Linked DNA regions of Homo sapiens. The protein of the gene in region 4 purifies or fractionates together with the protein of the main gene of each other region. This does not show direct contact. Each region holds a gene or a part of one and is shown on either strand. Other genes may lie near its edges. The genes, in order: ARHGEF7, CNOT1, ANKRD52, CAMK4 and PPT1.

Region 1 (3,518 bases), on a different chromosome or scaffold from region 4:
AGATGAAGTACCTTTTTTCTATAAATGTTACTCCGTAGCTAATAAATGTGGCTAGTGGATGTCTTTTGAGTGCTGGGGCCCCAGCTAGAGCTGCCCCTCCTGTCTGGGGCAGACGCCGTGAGGAGCCCCACGCTCGGCCCAGGTGGCGCGAGCTAGTGTTTGGCCCCAAAAACTGACTGCTGAGAGCCAGAGATACGAATGAAATGATAAATCCTGAGGTTTATTTCACATGGAGTGTTTAAAGAGCAGAAGGAAGTGCGTGATAAGTGCCCTTTCGCGGTGAGCACGCGAGTCTCATGTTCTCTGCCCTTCCCGCTCTGTGCCCTTGGCAGCTCCCCTCCCACCCGGTCACTCCGTCCAGCAAGCACGCAGACAGCAAGCCCGCGCCGCTGACGCCCGCCTACCACACGCTGCCCCACCCCTCCCACCACGGCACCCCGCACACCACCATCAACTGGGGACCCCTGGAGCCTCCGAAAACACCCAAGCCCTGGAGCCTGAGCTGCCTGCGGCCCGCGCCTCCCCTCCGGCCCTCAGCTGCTCTCTGCTACAAGGAGGTGAGGTCCCTTGACCACTCAAACAGCCAGATGACGGTGAGCATGCCTCGGGCCCTGGGTGTGCCCACGTGCTGGGCCTTCTGTGTACAGCAAAATGCACCCTAACTCCTAGAGAACTGAGAAGGGGGGGTCTGCCTTGGTTCTCTGGTTATCTGCTCTGCTGCTGAGAGGCCCGTGGTAACCTGTGTGGGAAGGCGATGTGCAGGGTCCCCCTCCTTTCTGCCATGCACAGGGGGGCCTTTACTGCACTTGCCGGAGGAGTGTGCCGCCAGGGGCCAGGAGCTGGAAAGGCGCTGAGCCCAGGTGGCTTTCACTCCCTGTGTGTGAGGCCATCGCTCAGCATCTGCACGCTGTCTGCTGCGTCTAACGACCCCTCCTCTAGGTTGGGGATCCTGTCCAGGAGCCCTGCATTTTGTCATCCAGAAGCCATTTGAGATGAAGAGAACATTTACTAATACAAATGAAAAACAATCACTTAGGCGGTTTCCCCCTTTGATGCATAAGAAATCATGATGCGGTCTTTGCTTGTCTCTGTTCTCATCCGGCATTTTTATATTTGCTAGGCGCAAATAAAGTACGATTCCAATGAATAAATAGAAGTGTTAACACTTCCTTACACTTTTACCTAAACCAGCTTGGATGAGGAAAGGAAGTGTCTTTAGAAATCTGTTCTGAGAAGTACTTTCACCTGAGGAAGCTGATAATTGAGATGAGAGTTGTTTTCATAAGCAGTTGAGCGTGCATGGTGGTGAGGTATGAGGAGTGGCGGTGAGAGTGTGGGTATCGTGCGCGTCAGTGTGAGCAGCAGTGCCCGTTGGTGGGGTGTGAGTGAGCGTGAGGATGGTGACACGCTCTTGCCTGGCATTGTGCCTCTGTGTCTGGTCAAGGCCACATTTGCCAAGGGAACTGGAGCAGACTTTTTCTACATTCTTGCCGGCAGCCCTGGGGGTTTTAAGGCCCACAGGAAAGTACTGTATGAGAAATTAGGATCTGTGCTTTTCATTTTTTGTTCTGAGTCTTTGTTTTTATGATATCTTTCAGGTAATCATGTGTGCAAGTCAGAATTTCCATTTTCTATCATGGGAAGTTACTTGAAGAATGTTGCTGTTCCTTATTGTATACTTTAGTGTGCACAGTCTAAAGAAAAAGTGAGCTACTACAAGAACTGGTGGAGACTGAATTACTAGGGAAGAAAATTGGGATAAAACTGTTGGGCAAAGAAGTAGAAAGGGCAACGGAAGGGGTATTGAAGTGAAGATAAACAATTTTTTTTGATAAGTCTGGCTGCATTTGCTTTGCCAACTCCACACTGGGAGAGAAGGGCTCACACCGAGCAGCTGCCGTCCAGTGTTGCTGAGCACCGCCCAGCAGTAGCGTGGAGAGTGATCTTGCAGGGTGTGAGAAGAGGACATGGAGGCTCGTGGAGGCCGCTCTGCAGCCCGCTCTGCCTGGCTCTGGCTCAGGTGTGCTGTGTGCTCTGTGACCCTCTGCGCCTGCAGGTGCCCTCGGAGCACGTGAGGGGCGGGCGTTGGCTCTTCAAGGCTCTCCATCTCAATTTGCTTCGAATTAGGGAAGCCATGAGCACATGTGTATAAATGTGTCTTCTGGAACAGATTGCTGCTGCATTTCTAAGAGCTTTCCAATTTTTTATAGAAATACTTTTGTTTAACTTTTTGAAGGCTATTTTAGATTCAGAGTTTGTTACGTGGCTGTATTGGGTGATGCTGGGGTTTGGGCTTCTGGGGTACCTATTACCCAAATAGGAAACATTGTACCCAATGGGTAGCTTTTCAAAACTCACCCCCATCACCTTCCGCCTTTTGGAGTCCCCAGGGTCTGTCATTTCCATGGTCATGTCCATGTGTACCCATTGTTTAGCTCCCAAGAAAAGACTTTTAAAGATAATTTTAAAAACCAAGCTTTGTTTCCTCTGTTTCCAGCCTGGTTCATTCCATAGCACATCTCATCTTCTGAGTCTTGGTCTCGCGTTTAGCATTCGTGATGGTTTATGTCGTTGGGGTGATGCAGAAACCAGCCTTTTTTTGATATCGGTATTTAACACGTGCTTGACAGTTGACACCTTACCTGCTCTGTTGGGACTTGCTTTGCTCACTTTGTTTTTTGCCGTCGTCTTCTGTGCTTGTTTGAAAAGCTGTTTGAAGAGGTAAGGGGTGGGCCATTCCGTTGTGAACACTCTGAGCTGGTGTGCATGTGGCCCCTGCACAGCAGCCCTGGCCGAGCTTGGCTGTGCTCCTGGCACTCAGAGTCAGGTAGCTGAGCACTCGCTCCCTTTTCTTCTCCCTGAAACTTCAAATATTTTCTTAAAGCAATTATTTTTTACTTATCTGTCATTTAATGACAACCTTAGTTTCCTCCTCTCTTTCCAGTTAGCTGTGCCAGGGGATAGGTCTGTCCTAGGGAGCAGCTGCCCCCTCCTCTCCTCCTCCCTCAGGAGCGTGCAGGATGTCTGTGCACACCAGCGCCAGCCTGCCTCCTGGTGACACCTCTCATCACAGGACTAACAGGACCCAAATGACACGAGGGGTTTTATTAGAATTAAAAAAAAAAAATTAGCCAATGACTAATACTGAAAATGCCCTATTGATTTTTAAAAATTAACGTTCAGAAGCTGGTAAAGAAAAATCAAAGTAGGAAAAGGCGAGAAGCTCTTATCAGTGGCTATAATAATTTGGGGTTTTATACCTTTACAGCAGCCTTTCTGATATGCCAGTGAAAATGATTGGCTTTAGAGTATGTTAGCATTTTCTTTTGTCTTTCCCTAGGATCTTAGTAAGAGCCCTAAGACCATGAAAAAGCTGCTGCCCAAGCGCAAACCTGAACGGAAGCCTTCAGATGAGGAGTTCGCGTCCCGGAAAAGTGAGTACCTGCGGTCCGTGTGGTGGAGGACGTGGCCTCCTGGTCACGTAGGCCATGGCTTTCCTGGGATAGAGGGAGGCTTGG
Region 2 (3,518 bases), on a different chromosome or scaffold from region 4:
AGCACACTTACTTGTGGTTGTGATGGGAGGGAGTTCTTCTGGCTGCTTGACATCTTTCTTTGGAGCAGAGAGTTGCTCATCTAAATTCTTCAGGCGATCTTTATCCTTTAGGAGGTTTCCAGGTTTTAGCTCATTGATGTCTAATGCAAGGTTCTTGCAGAGAACCTCGATTTCAAACTTCAAGTTTAACTGCACAGTTCCAGAGTTGGATTAGAATTTTTAAAAGAAAACTTTAGTTTTACTCATAATATACTCTACTTTCAGTTATTATAGTACTTCCCCCGAAATACCCTGCCTTCACTGTAAGTTTTAATAATGTGAAGGCAAAGAATGTTCCAGAGGACAAGGAAGCAGTAAATTACCTTTAAGTCATGCTCCTGATGTAGCTCAGCTAATACATTCATAATTGCCATTGTCCAAGGGTTTGGTGGCCTAAAAACCTAAAGAAAAGCTATTATGTTAAGCTGGCCCAAAATGTGCCCTTTAATTTGGATTATTTAAAACAATTCAATACAACATAAGGGGGTAGGGGGGAGTCAAACAAATAAAAAACAAAAAACAAGGATTAAAAAATAACCAAAAACAGTTAAACATAGTTAAACACTTATACCTCTGTAGCCATAACAAAACCCCTAGCCTTCTCACCTATATCACATTTCAAAAACAAAACAAAACAAAAAACCAAAAACCAAAGCCAACCATTATAATCTTTCTTATTTCACCCAGCCTCTCAAATTGGAAATCCAAGTGCCATAGAGGAAAACAGACTTAACTAGCTTTACCTCACAAGAACTAAGAATATAATCTCTTGACCTCATGCTAAAACAAAGCAATGCTTAGAAATTAGTCATAAATAAAATATTAAAATCTACTCACCACACTACGAATGCTAGATTCTAAGACTTTGGCAACAAAGGGCACTACATAGAGCAATTCTTGTTGTCCTTTAACATAAGCCTCTAGCAGCAATGATTTCACATCCAAGTCCTAGAATAAGAAAAATACTTTCAAAAGCGGGGAATATACCCCCCAAAATGGTATAACAAAACCAAAGAAAAGTATTTTGCCAAGCTTATCCCCAAAACAGGAATCAACATAATGTCTAGTCCTTGCCTTACAAAAAGGGGTTAACAACTCAAAACGTGGGCCAAAATCTTACAAAACCCCAATAATCATTAAATAGCTCCAAACAGCCAATACTTGTAATCATAATGTGCTGAAGATTCTCAATTTTTACACATTTAGATGAAACTCACAGTGTGTAAGATGGGTTTGTTTTTAGCTAATGTGATCATTCCTAGCCAATGTCCCAAGTTCTTCAGCAAAGAACGATCTGAGAAATTGGCTGCAGCTTTATCAGAGGTCAGGAGCACCTGAAATAGTGTAAGATTAAGAAAGATATGAGAATAAGCTTATGAAAGAAAACTCAACTAAGTATTTGAGAATTCCATTATCCTATCCTAAAGACAAGTCATCATTTCTAAGAACAGGCCCCAAAGTAGAATTACTCTGTATATCATTCTCAATATCATTTTGCTGTGTTTATGATTCAACAGTGCTATTTTTACCTTGAAGAAGTCTTTACATTTTATTTTTTCAAAATAGGTACAAACACATTGCACAAAATTCAAAAAGAACACAAAGTTATGTGCCAGCTATCCTCCCCTAGAAAAGTATTTTCAACTCTGAAAACCTTAGCTAGGTTTAAAGCAGAGACCTAACTACAAAGCTATTTTGAAGTGCTAAATTAATTTAAATGAGGATGATAGCCATGCTTAAGTCCTTAAAGGCAGCAAGCATACAAAGGAATATAATCAAATTAGCCTCCTATTGCAATCTTCAGTATACCCAGGTCATTAACAAATCTCTGCAGCCAACCAAGATAACTTTCTGAGATATAGTATAATACTGTTTATATACTTCTTTTCAAATTTCTAAAAAACCCAAACCATTTAACTGATTCTCCGGTTACTGTTTTTCTAAGGGGGGGCAGAACTAACATAGGAGAGTGTTTTGGCTGCAGGTATGCACACATGTATATACCCATCTACTCTGTGGTACCTCTTGACTTAGGGCTATATTTAAACTTCTGTTTAAAAAACATGGTCTTGAAACTTTGCTACAGAGTATGTGGAAACTTTTATGTATCCCAACCACCCTTGCTATCAGATAATAAAAACGAAATAGAGCCATGTTCCTTAACTCTATACAGCAACAGCAGAATGGCACAAGTCAGCTGTGCAACAGAGAGCCAGGAATTCTTTTGCACTACAGCGTAACCAAGAATGGGGAATATTCCCATCCACAGGTTTAAATATAGTGCTGGTTCCTAAGCCAATGACCCAAGTTATTGAGCAAAGAATGACCACAGCTGTATGCTGGTTCTAGAAGTTTTTCCTCCTAAGAAATAAATGATGGTTTAGAAATTAAAATACTTGAATTTTGTTGAATAAGCCTCAGCTCAGTAGAATTTGACCTTAAACTGCACAGACTCCTAGACAACAGCTATTCCACAAACAGATTTAGAGTCTAAAGATATCTTGCACTTGAATACTACAAGATACAAACGAAAACATTCAGGACAGCATTGTTTATAATAGTTTAAGTGATTAACAACACAAATGCCCAGCAGCAATACAAATACATACAATGGTTTTCTACAAGACTATATTTTTCTGTTTTTTAAAAAAGAGGACTGGCCGGGCACAGTGGCTCAGGCCTGTAATCCCAGAACTCTGGGAGGCCGAGGAGGGTGGATCACCTAAGGTCAGGAGTTCGGGACCAGCCTGGCCAATATGATTAAACCCCGTCTCTACTAAAAATATAAAAATTAGCTGGGCATGGCGGTACAACTATAATCCCAGCTACTCGGGAGGCTGAAGTAAGAGAACTGCTTGAACCTGGGAGGTGGAGGCTGCAGTGAGCCGAGATCGTGCCACTGCACTCCAGCCTAAGCAACAGAGTGAGACCACATCTCAAAAAAATTGAAAAAAAAAAAAAAAGGGGGCTACAGCAAAGAGCATTATCATTATCATGAATAATATCCAGGGGAGAAAAAAAAGTAAGTGAAAAAAAAAGAAAAGGATGTACAGAGGGCGACACCATACAGAATATGCTAACCAATACTATGCTGCTTATGTATAACAGTGGTAAAGTTCTAAAATCATGCATGGCATGACAAAAACAATTCATAATAGTGGTTACTTTCAAAGAAAAGGCACAGGGTATGCCTATAAATTTAAGTTCTGCATAAAATTTAGTTCCATATAAGAAACAAAATCTACAGCAATTTCCAGAGGTACCTAATATTGACAATATATATGGAAAAATAGCAAAAATCCTACCTATATAATCAAATATTTCCAAATTCAAAGCAATAATTAAAGGAAATATAAGAACCAACTCTTACTTTAATGTTTCTGTAGGTCTCATTCAGAACCATCTTGTTAAATTCAGGATTCTTCAGCGTGTCAAGGAAGTTTGAATACAGGCTATGAAAGTTTGGCTCAATACTGACT
Region 3 (3,518 bases), on a different chromosome or scaffold from region 4:
AGCCAGCAGTGTGTCTTGAGCCCTCTGGGTGTAGTCCATAGTGGGCAAAGACAAAAGTATGAGATTGAAGCTCAGGAGCTTCAGGGGGAAAAAAAAACCCAAAAGTATGAGACATAGTTCCTTCCCTAAAGGAATGGATTTTTTTTTTTTTTTTTTTTTTGGAGACAGAGTCTCACTCTGTTGCCCAGGCTGGAATGCAGTGGTGTGATCTCAGCTCACCGCGCCCGGCTGGTCTTCTTGAGAGGATTAGAAAAGCTAAATGTACAAAATAATTTGTTTATTCCACAAGCATTAATTAAATATTTACTTACTAGGTTCCAAGTACTGTGCTAGATACTAAGGATAAAAGATGAGGCTGGGCGTAGTGGCTCAAGCTTGTAATCCTAGCACTTAGGGAGGCTGAGGTAGGCAGATCACCTGAGGTTAGGAGTTCAAGACCAGCTTGACCAACATGGTGAAACCCCGTCTCTACTAAAAATACAAAAAATTAACCAGGTGTGGTGGCACACGCCTATAATCCCAGCTACTCAGGAGGCCGAGGCAGGAGAATTGCTTGAACCAGGGAGGTGGAGGTTGTAGTGAGCCGAGATCACGCCACTGCACTCCAGCCTGGGCAACCGAACAAGACTCTGTCTCAAAAAAATTAAAATTAAAAATAGGCCGGGTGTGGTGGTTCACGCCTATAATCCCAGCACTTTGGGAGGCCGAGGCAGGCAGATCATCTGAGGTCAGGAGTTCGAGACCAGCCTGGCCAACGTGGTGAAACCCCGTCTCTACTAAAAATATAAAAATTAGCTGGTCATGTTGGCAGGCACCTGTAATCCCAGCTACTCGGGTGGCTAAGGCAGGAGAATCACTTGAACCAGGGAGGTGGAGGTTGCAGTGAGTCAAGATCACACTAATCCACTCCAACCTGGGCGACAGAGTGAGACTCTGTCTCCAAAAAAACAAATAAATAAATAAAATTAAATAAAAATTTAAAAAGGATGAATTGTCCCAAATTTCTGTCTTTCGAAAGCTAATAATCTATTGGGAAAGATAAATAAAAGGACACTTATGCATACTAATGTAAGATGTTAATGACGGGAAACTAGGTATAGGTTATGTGAGAACTCCCTGTACTATCTTCACAATTTTTCTTTTTCTTTCTTTTTTTTTTTTTTTAATTAATTTATTTTGTAGGTCAGGGATCTCTCTGTGTTGCCCACACTGGTCTCGAACTCCTGGGCTCAAGCAATCCTCCTGCCTCAGACTCCCAAAGTGCTGGGATTACAGATATGAGCCACCACACCTAGCCCACAATTTTTCTATAAATCTAATAATATTCTAAAACAAAAAGTTTATTTTTTGCTGGGCACGGTGGCACATGCATATATTCCCAGTTATTCAGGAGGCAGGTGCAGGTAAGGCAAGAGGATCATGCAAACCCAGGAGTTTGAGGCTGTAGTGCACTATGATCATGCCTATGAATAGCCACTGCACCCCAGCCTGGGCAGCCTAGTGAGACCCCGTCTCTAAAAAAAAAAAAAACCCACAAAAATCAGGTAGGCACAGTGACTCATGCCTGTAATTCCAGCACTGAGGTGGGAGGATTGCTTGAGCCCAGGAGTATGAGACCAGCCTGGCTAACACATAATGAGAACTCATCTCTATTTTATTTAATTAAATAAATAAATAAATTAATTAATTTATTTATTTATTTGAGATGGAGTCTTGCTCTGTCACCCAGGCTCTAGTGCAGTTGCGCGATCTCAGCTCACTGCAACCTCTACCTCCGGGGTTCAAGCGATTCTCCTGCCTCTTCCTCCTGAGTAGCTGGGATTACAGGTGCCTATCACCACGCCCAGCTAATTGTTTTTTTGAAGACCGAGTCTCACTCTGTTGCCCAGGCTGGAGTGCAGTGGCATGAACTTGGCTCACTGCAACCTCCACCTCCTGGGTTCAAGCAATTCTGCCTCAGCCTCCTGAGTAGCTGGGACTACAGGAGCACGCTGCCACGCCTGGCTAATTTTTTGTATTTTAGTACAGACGGGGTTTCACCATGTTGCCCAGGCTGGTCTTGAACTCCCGAGCTCAGGCGATCCACCTGCCTTGGCCTCCCAAAGTGCTAGGATTGCAGGCGTGAGCCACCACGCCCAGCCTAATTTTTGTATTTTTAGTAGAAACAGGGTTTCGCCATGTTGGCGAGGCTGGCCACGAACTCCTGACCGCGGGTGATCTGCCCACCTCAGCCTCCTAAAGTGCTGGAATTAAAGATGTGAGCAACCGAGCCAGGCCCCTGTCTCCATTTAAAATAAGTAAATTAAATAATTTTTTTTTAAGATTTATTTTTTTAAAAAGGACACTAAAATCCAAGAGGCTCAGCTATTACCTTCAGCAAGTTACTTCTCTATGCCTCAATTTCATCACCCACAGTAAGGATAAAAATAGTATCTACTTCATGGGATCTTTATGAGGATTAAATTATTTAATATACATGAAGTACTTAGAACTGTGCTTGACAGTAAGTGCTACTTTATTATTATTACTACTACTACAACTACTACTAAGGTATGAGAAGACTGCCAAGGGAGCACAGAGGAAGAGGCATCTTCCCCAGGGAAGGCTGGGAAAGGCCTCACAGAGGAGAGAAGCTGGGACTGAGTTTGAGATGAACAGGACTTATTCGGGTGGGCTGGGAGGAGAAAGCATCCTAGGGCAGGGGTTGGCGTGCCTGGAGGTGGGGAAAGCATGTTGGTCAGCAGAAGGCTGATAACTGAACATCATGCTCTAGGTTCTCTAGGAGAGCATTCAGAGGATAAAGGAGGGCATTGAAGCCAGAGGGGTTCAGGGCAGACCTTGAGAAGGTAAAGTGGGTCTGGAGCTGCCATTGAAGAATGGGTAGGATTTAGAGAACCTACCTAGAGCTGAGGACGGGTGGCGGCCAGGTAGGCCTGGAGGGCCTTGGTCCTCTCCTCTGGCCCTCCCAGAACTGTGCCCTCCTGGGCTGGGCCTGTCCCTGCCTCACAGTCTACCCCCGGCTCCCCAGCTGTCTGGAGTTCTTACTGGATAACGGTGCAGACCCCTCCCTGCGGGACAGGCAGGGCTACACAGCTGTGCACTATGCAGCCGCCTATGGCAACAGACAGAACCTCGAACTGGTATGTGTTGGGGCCCGGCCTGCAGGAGGGGAGGCAGGGGCAGGGCACAGGGTTTGTGGATTCCAAAACTAAGGGTTCAATCAAATGTGGTCTTTGGATCCAGAGGCTTAGTGGGGATTACTGCGAGTCGGGGACTGGGGTACTATCTTGGGAGTTCCAGAGTCTCAGCACCTACTTTCCTGTCCTTTGCAGCTCTTAGAAATGTCCTTTAACTGCCTGGAGGATGTGGAGAGCACCATTCCAGTCAGCCCTTTGCACTTAGCTGTGAGTCCCACGTCTTTTTTCTGTTGCCTTCCTTGTCCTACCTGTTCCCAGGCCCTAACAAAGGTGCCAGCACTTGTGAAGTTATCCTTCCTTCTGCCTTTTTGTGGGAGAGGG
Region 4 (3,518 bases):
CAATTTTGTACACATGGATACCGCTCAAAAGAAGCTCCAAGAATTCAATGCCCGGCGTAAGCTTAAGGTAAGATAGCATATATTTTGTTTTGTTTTGTTTTGTTTTCAAAAAATTTATCTCATCTTGATCTATCAATAATAGTTCTACCGTTCTTCATCTAATACTATTATCTATTTCTTAAGGCACCAGGGAAAATCCTGCTTTGAAACTCCAATAAGGCTGACACAAAGCTACTTAAGTTTTCTTATACTCTCATAAGGAATATATGATTAATAAAGGGAAATTTGTTATATAAGTTGATATTTACATATCAAATATATTATTGCTGCTTCTCATCTAATTAAAGTATACTGCTTAAACAGCATTGTTCAGGGAAAACTGATATTTATTCAGAAAGTTGTTTTCTTTCAGAATATGTAAAACTTGGTAAACAATTTTTGAAACTATATTTCCTAATATAGATAAATAATTACTTGACAAAAATTTAAAAATTTAAGTGATATAATAAATTACTTAACTAAATATATCATTTTATATAGTACCTATCGAATAGAGATTAGGAGCTTTTCTATTACATAACTGTGTTTAGGACTAGCTATGTAAGTAGAGGATCTCAGAGAGCAGCTGGGGGTCAGAATTAGGGTCCTATGCAGCCATTGCTTACGGTCTGATACAGACTAAATAAATCTGAAAGGCTCCATGGTCAAATTAATTATAAATACCCCAAATTAAATAGTATTGACTTCACCTAGGATTTCTCCAGCTAGTTTGATCACGGAACTCTTATATCCCCATGATGACATCCATGTGGTAAAAACTACTAACGTCCACAGAACTAGTGTTCCGTAAAACAAATACACCGGGAAACACAGATTAAAATTTTCAAAAATTGGTTAGCCACAGGTAAACACATGTATTCAGGCTTTCAGTTGTCCAGATGATTAAATACACTAATTTGTATTTAATTTGAGATGAAAGAGGTTTTACTGTTCATTCTCCAAATTTTCTTTTGGCAAACAATCTAGGAATAAGGTACTTTGAAAACTTTAACGCTAACCTATAAAACGGAATCCCTAAAAGCAAAGCTGGGGTTGAGCTCTGATGTGGGGTGTTAAAGCAGAGGTAACACTTGACACTCTTCTGTTTCCAATCAGGCAGCGGTGAAGGCTGTGGTGGCCTCTTCGCGCCTGGGAAGTGCCAGCAGCAGCCATGGCAGCATCCAGGAGAGCCACAAGGCTAGCCGAGACCCTTCTCCAATCCAAGATGGCAACGAGGACATGAAAGCTATTCCAGAAGGAGAGAAAATTCAAGGCGATGGGGCCCAAGCCGCAGTTAAGGGGGCACAGGCTGAGCTGATGAAGGTGCAAGCCTTAGAGAAAGTTAAAGGTGCAGATATAAATGCTGAAGAGGCCCCCAAAATGGTGCCCAAGGCAGTGGAGGATGGGATAAAGGTGGCTGACCTGGAACTAGAGGAGGGCCTAGCAGAGGAGAAGCTGAAGACTGTGGAGGAGGCAGCAGCTCCCAGAGAAGGGCAAGGAAGCTCTGCTGTGGGTTTTGAAGTTCCACAGCAAGATGTGATCCTGCCAGAGTACTAAACAGCTTCCTTCAGATCTGGAAGCCAAACACCGGCATTTTATGTACTTTGTCCTTCAGCAAGAAAGGTGTGGAAGCATGATATGTACTATAGTGATTCTGTTTTTGAGGTGCAAAAAACATACATATATACCAGTTGGTAATTCTAACTTCAATGCATGTGACTGCTTTATGAAAATAATAGTGTCTTCTATGGCATGTAATGGATACCTAATACCGATGAGTTAAATCTTGCAAGTTAACACAACGTAACACTTAAAAGCATACATTTTCAGCAACCAGTGGCACATATTTGAAGTGAATAGTAGCAAATTGTTTTTGCTTTGAAAATCTAGCCATCCTACATCCTTTGGATTTCTTCACAAGGCAGTAATTCCTTTGAACTACTGCTTAGCTAATACTAGGTAGTGCTAAAAGACATGTTCCCATAACTTTTACAACATTTTACTTTTTATCATTGATGTGTTCAAACTGTTTACAAGGAGATGCTTATAGATGATAGTTGTACATATGTGCAAAAAAAAATCCACTTGCAATGGTAAGAAATTGAAGTATCCTTAAAGGCCATGAAGCCATATGTCCCTAAAGCCTGTGTGGAGAATGCTTTATTTTATTCTTATTTATATACACTATATTAATAATAACCAAAATGTTCTAAGATTCTGCCATTTTACAACCCTGGAGGAAGTAATTTACAAACTCACGCTGAGTTCCATTCTTTCCTTCACCTGCTCTCCAATAAGATGACTTTCTGATAGACAAAGCTTAGGGTGTAATAAACAGGGAAGAAAAGAAGGTAAGACTGTACTTAAACTGATGAAGATAAGATTGATTCCTTTTCATTTTCCAGATAAAATTGTATTTACTCATGAATTTATACAACTTTACAGATAAGAACATTTTAATGGATAAACTCTATAATTACCAAGTTGCAAATATTTAGAAAATTCTATTTCACAGGTTAGTGCCAAAATGTCTTCATAGAGTAGGAATAATATTCCATTTTAAGATTATTCATTATTGACTTTAATAGAGTAAGAAAACATTATTGTTTATCAAAGCTCTTTTTTTATCCAATTGATGGTTATCTACACATATCACTTATAAACTAAAGTTATTTATGAAAAGCTAGTATGTCTTTTTCTCGTATTTGGAATGAAAGTACCCACATTTTACAATGTAGTGTTGAGAATGTGGCTGCCAATAAATTTAGCACAATGCAATTTATTTACCTTAAAAAACAAACAAAAACAAAAATAAAGAAAAATACTGATTTCAAATCAGACTCTTAAAAAGCTGGAACATTAGACCTGATATTTTATTATGATTTTTCCCAGAATAAGTTTAATTTCTCTTTGACTTTCATAGAAACACTTTCCCCTTATAGAAATTGCACTATCTCCAATTTATTTCTAGTTTGAGTTGAAATGAATATTTTATCAGATTAATTATGTGTCACATTTTTGGTGGGTTTTCTCAATTTTAAAAAAGAATTCATTTTAAAAAATAATTATTTTCAGAGACCAAATAAAGACAATAAAAATGACTATCACATAAAAATCCTTGTTAAAAAAGAGATCTTAAATTATGTTGGCTCTCCCTCAAAACTATTAAATTAGAAAACGAAACTAAAGCTCCAGTTTGTAGAGGCTGTTGGACCTCAGTAGACATTCTTCTTTTCAATCACAAATCTCTCTCTACTACTGTTCTCATGGGAAGAAAACAAGGTAGGACTTCTTATCTTTCATAGTTTAAGAATCTGACAGGTCACTGATATGGAGCCCCTGAAGAAGCACATCATCTGGGCTCAGAAGATTATTTTTTGTTTTGTTTTATTTGTACTATCTAGTAGAGAGCACTTTTCTTATTCCCTCTTTCCTTCCTTCCTCATTTAATTATTCCCTCTCAGAATTCCCATGTTGTC
Region 5 (3,518 bases), on a different chromosome or scaffold from region 4:
CAAAAAATAAAAATAAAAAATACTGATTAAAAGCTATAGATTGATGTGTTTATCTTCACTTCCTCCTTAAACTTTAATTAAGTGGTAGCAGAAGAATAAAAAGTGATAAACCCACAAGGGCAGAGAGAACAGGGAGAGAGGAGGTAAGAGATCATAAAAAATGGCAACATGTTTTTGAAAGCAAGCAAGCAGATGAATGAGTGTGAGAACTGTTTTAGCAGAGCAGATGGTGAAGGCTTAAAGTAATAAAGAGAAATCATTTTGTCTTTGTGATACTGTCCCAGGTTGCCCCTGGTATTAGGGAGGATTAATTCTGGTTGCAAGAAGAAACCCATATCAAGCCAAAGTAAATTTTAAAAGAAAGTAATACTCTGTTGGTGCCTAAAGCCTCATAGGGCCTAGAATCAAGAATTGGGAGCCATGAGGAGCCAGGGTATTCTCTCTCCAGTGCCATTGTTGCTTCTCTCTCTGTGTCGCTGCTTCTTTCTCTCCATGCAGACCAGCTTCCCCTGCCACCCACATGATGGAAGGTGGCCTCGCACGGCTTCCAAATGTTTAATTTTCTGTTAGGAGATTGTCTCAGTCTGAGGCTAGACTCTCTTTGTCCCGATTCAGATTCTTCAGGAAGGGACCATGCCCCAGCTCAGGTCAGGTCTCCCCCTCTGCTCTCATTAGCTGTGGCCAGAGAAGTGGGACCGTGCTTACTAACCATACCCCACCTCCCTGTAAACCAGTAGGCCGGGCAGGAAGAGTGCAAGAGAGGCAGAGACCCCAAAAGATGTCTTCCACATTCTTCAGATAACTTAACCTTAGCAAAGCAAACGTGATATCCTAATACGCACAGTAACTGGTGGGGAAGCCCCCGGCTTGGCATGGTGAGGGCAACGAGGAATGGTATAATAGTTCTCTCTCTCCTTCCTGGATGTAAAACTACCCTCTAGTTCCCTTTTGCCTTTGCAGATGCTGTCAGCCCTTCCTAGCCTTCTCCTTCCTCCGGTTTGCTCCCTGCCATCCCCTGCCCCACGCTCTACCCTCCTACCTCTACACTCCCTGCCACAATGAATGCTTCAGTGTTGCCCTGGCCTTGGCCTCCGTCTTCCCCCGTACCAGCTCAGAGGAAGCTAGAGCTTTACATATCCTGTTTAATTTTCATAGCAACTTGCCTTCCCCAGGTCTGCTCTGGGCCCCGCTCCCAGTTTGCACCCCACCCTCAGTGGATCTCAGAGTGCTTTTCCTCAATTGTCCAGTTTTCCCATGTCTTTGCCCTCAGCCGATGAACTTGCAACTTGGTTTTCTGGAAATATTAAGGCATCTACTCAGGCTCTCTCAGAGACTTTCAGCCATTCAAAAAAGTTAGAGAGTAATGTAACGAACTACAGGCATACCTCAGAGAAACTGAGGATTTGGTTCTAGACCACCACAATAAAGCAAATATTGTTAATACAGCAAGTCACACAAAGTTGTTGGTTTCCCAGCGCATATAAAAGCTATGTTTACACTATACTGAAGTCTATTAAGTGTGCAGTAGCATCATGCCTAAAAAAAGTACATGCCTTAATTAGAAAATACTTTATTGCTAAAAAATGCTAATCATTTGAGTCTTCAGCAAGTCATCTTTTTGCTGGTGGAGGGTCTTGCCTCGGTGTTGATGGCTGCTGACTGATCAGGGTGGTGGTTGCTGAAGGTTGGGATGTAGGGTCCAGCCCCACAGGGTCGGTGGGTTTTTCTCCCTGTGTGCGGAGATGAGAGATTGTAGAAATAAAGACACAAGACAAAGAGATAAAAGACAGCTGGGCCCGGGGGACCACTACCACCAAGACGTGGAGACTGGTAGCGGCCCCGAATGCCAGGCTGCGCTGATATTTATTGGATACAAGACAAGGGGGGCAGGGTAAGGAGTGTGAGCCATCTCCCATGATAGGTAAAGTCACATGGGTCACGTGTCCACTGGACAGGGGGCCCTTCCCTGTTTGGCAGCCGAGGTGGGGAGAGAGAGAGAGAAAGACAGCTTAGGCCATTATTTCTGCATATCAGAGACTTTTAGTACTTTCACTAATTTTGCTACTGCTATCTAAAAGGCAGAGCCAGGTGTACAGGATGGAACATGAAAGCAGGCTAGGAACATGACCACTGAAGCACAGCATCACAGGGAGATGGTTGGGCCTCCGGATAACTGCAGGCGGGCCTGACTGATGTCACGCCCTCCACAAGAGGTGGAGGAGTAGAGGCTTCTCTAAACTCCCCCGGGGAAAGGGAGACTCCCTTTCCCAGTCTGCTAAGTAGTGGGTGTTTTTCCTTGGCACTGACGCTACCACTAGACCACGGTCCGCTTGGCAACGGACATCTTCCCAGACGCTGGCATTACCGCTAGACCAAGGAGCCCTCTAGTGGCCCTGTCCGGGCATGACAGAGGGCTCACACTATTGTCTTCTGGTCACTTCTGAGCATGTCCCTTCAGCTCCTATCTCTGTATGGCCTGGCTTTTCCTAGGTTATGATTGTAGGGCAAGGATTATTATAATATTGGAATAAAGAATAATTGCTACAAACTAATGATGAATGGTATTCATATATAATCATGTTTATGATCTAGGTCTAGGATAACTCTTGTTGTTTTATATATTTTATTATACCGGAACAGCTCATGCCCTCGGTCTCTTGCCTCGGCACCTGGGTGGCCTGCTGCCCACATTGGGGTGGCTGTGCTAATTTCTTAAAGTGAGACAATGATGAACTTTGTATCAGTTGACTCTTCCTTTCATGAAAGATTTCTTTGTAGCATGCGATGCTATTTGGTAGCATTTTGGCCACAATAGAACATCTTTCAGAACTGGAGTCAATCCTCAAACCCTGCCGCTGCTTTTATGTAAGCTTATGTAATATTTATTCTAAATCCTTTGTTGTCGTTTCATCAGTGTTCACAGCATCTTCACCAGGAGTAGATTCCATCTCAAGAAGCCACTGTTTTGCTCATCCGTAAGAAGCAATTCCTTATCTGTTTTTTGAGATTGCAACAATTCAGTCACATCGTCAGGTTCCACTTCTAATTCTAGTTCTCCTGCTATTTCCACATCTGCAGTTACTTCCTTCATTGAAGTCTTGAATCCCTCAGCCATTCATGAGGGTTGGAATCAACTTCTTTTAAATTCCTGATAATACTGATATTTTGACCTCTTCCCGTGAATCATGAATTTTTGTTTGTTTGTTTTTGAGACAGAGTCTCACTCTGTCACCCAAGTTGGAGTGCAGTGGTGCCATTACAGCTTACTGCAACATAGCCTCAACCTCCCAGGCTCAAGCAATCCTCCCACCTCAGCGTCCTGAGCAGCTGGGACTACAGGTGTGAGCCACTACACCCCACTAATTTTTTAATTTTTTTGTAGAGATAGGATCTCATTTATGTTGCCCAGGCTAGTCTCACACTCCTGGGCTCCACTGATTTTCCCTCCTCACCCTCCCAAAGTGCATGGTACCCAGCCCGTTAATGTTCTTAATGGCATCTAGAATGATAAATCCTTT

Evidence for each region.
Region 1: the proteins of CAMK4 (region 4) and ARHGEF7 purify together in Homo sapiens (affinity purification with mass spectrometry; 2 studies listed by BioGRID and IntAct, with this or other methods). This does not show direct contact.
Region 2: the proteins of CAMK4 (region 4) and CNOT1 purify together in Homo sapiens (affinity purification with mass spectrometry; one large-scale study listed by BioGRID and IntAct). This does not show direct contact.
Region 3: the proteins of CAMK4 (region 4) and ANKRD52 purify together in Homo sapiens (affinity purification with mass spectrometry; one large-scale study listed by BioGRID and IntAct). This does not show direct contact.
Region 5: the proteins of CAMK4 (region 4) and PPT1 purify together in Homo sapiens (co-immunoprecipitation; one large-scale study listed by IntAct). This does not show direct contact.

What each region holds. Positions count from the first base shown.
Region 1 is NC_000013.11:111,282,807-111,286,324, forward strand, and holds part of ARHGEF7 (rho guanine nucleotide exchange factor 7), read left to right. Parts: intron 1-332; coding exon 333-557; coding exon of another isoform or gene 558-593; intron 594-1,598; exon of another isoform or gene 1,599-2,020; intron 2,021-3,340; coding exon 3,341-3,434; intron 3,435-3,518. UniProt on the Homo sapiens protein: Acts as a RAC1 guanine nucleotide exchange factor (GEF) and can induce membrane ruffling. Functions in cell migration, attachment and cell spreading. Promotes targeting of RAC1 to focal adhesions. May function as a positive regulator of apoptosis.
Region 2 is NC_000016.10:58,546,310-58,549,827, forward strand, and holds part of CNOT1 (CCR4-NOT transcription complex subunit 1), read right to left. Parts: coding exon 3,410-3,518; intron 2,325-3,409; exon of another isoform or gene 2,190-2,324; intron 1,374-2,189; coding exon 1,257-1,373; intron 988-1,256; coding exon 877-987; intron 441-876; coding exon 363-440; intron 190-362; coding exon 12-189; intron 1-11.
Region 3 is NC_000012.12:56,248,381-56,251,898, reverse strand, and holds part of ANKRD52 (serine/threonine-protein phosphatase 6 regulatory ankyrin repeat subunit C), read left to right. Parts: intron 1-3,028; coding exon 3,029-3,140; intron 3,141-3,332; coding exon 3,333-3,404; intron 3,405-3,518. UniProt on the Homo sapiens protein: Putative regulatory subunit of protein phosphatase 6 (PP6) that may be involved in the recognition of phosphoprotein substrates.
Region 4 is NC_000005.10:111,482,871-111,486,388, forward strand, and holds part of CAMK4 (calcium/calmodulin-dependent protein kinase type IV), read left to right. Parts: coding exon 1-67; intron 68-1,155; coding exon 1,156-1,596; 3' UTR 1,597-3,518. UniProt on the Homo sapiens protein: Calcium/calmodulin-dependent protein kinase that operates in the calcium-triggered CaMKK-CaMK4 signaling cascade and regulates, mainly by phosphorylation, the activity of several transcription activators, such as CREB1, MEF2D, JUN and RORA, which play pivotal roles in immune response, inflammation, and memory consolidation.
Region 5 is NC_000001.11:40,083,744-40,087,261, reverse strand, and holds part of PPT1 (palmitoyl-protein thioesterase 1 isoform 1 precursor), read left to right. Parts: intron 1-3,518. UniProt on the Homo sapiens protein: Has thioesterase activity against fatty acid thioesters with 14 -18 carbons, including palmitoyl-CoA, S-palmitoyl-N-acetylcysteamine, and palmitoylated proteins. In contrast to PPT2, PPT1 can hydrolyze palmitoylated proteins and palmitoylcysteine.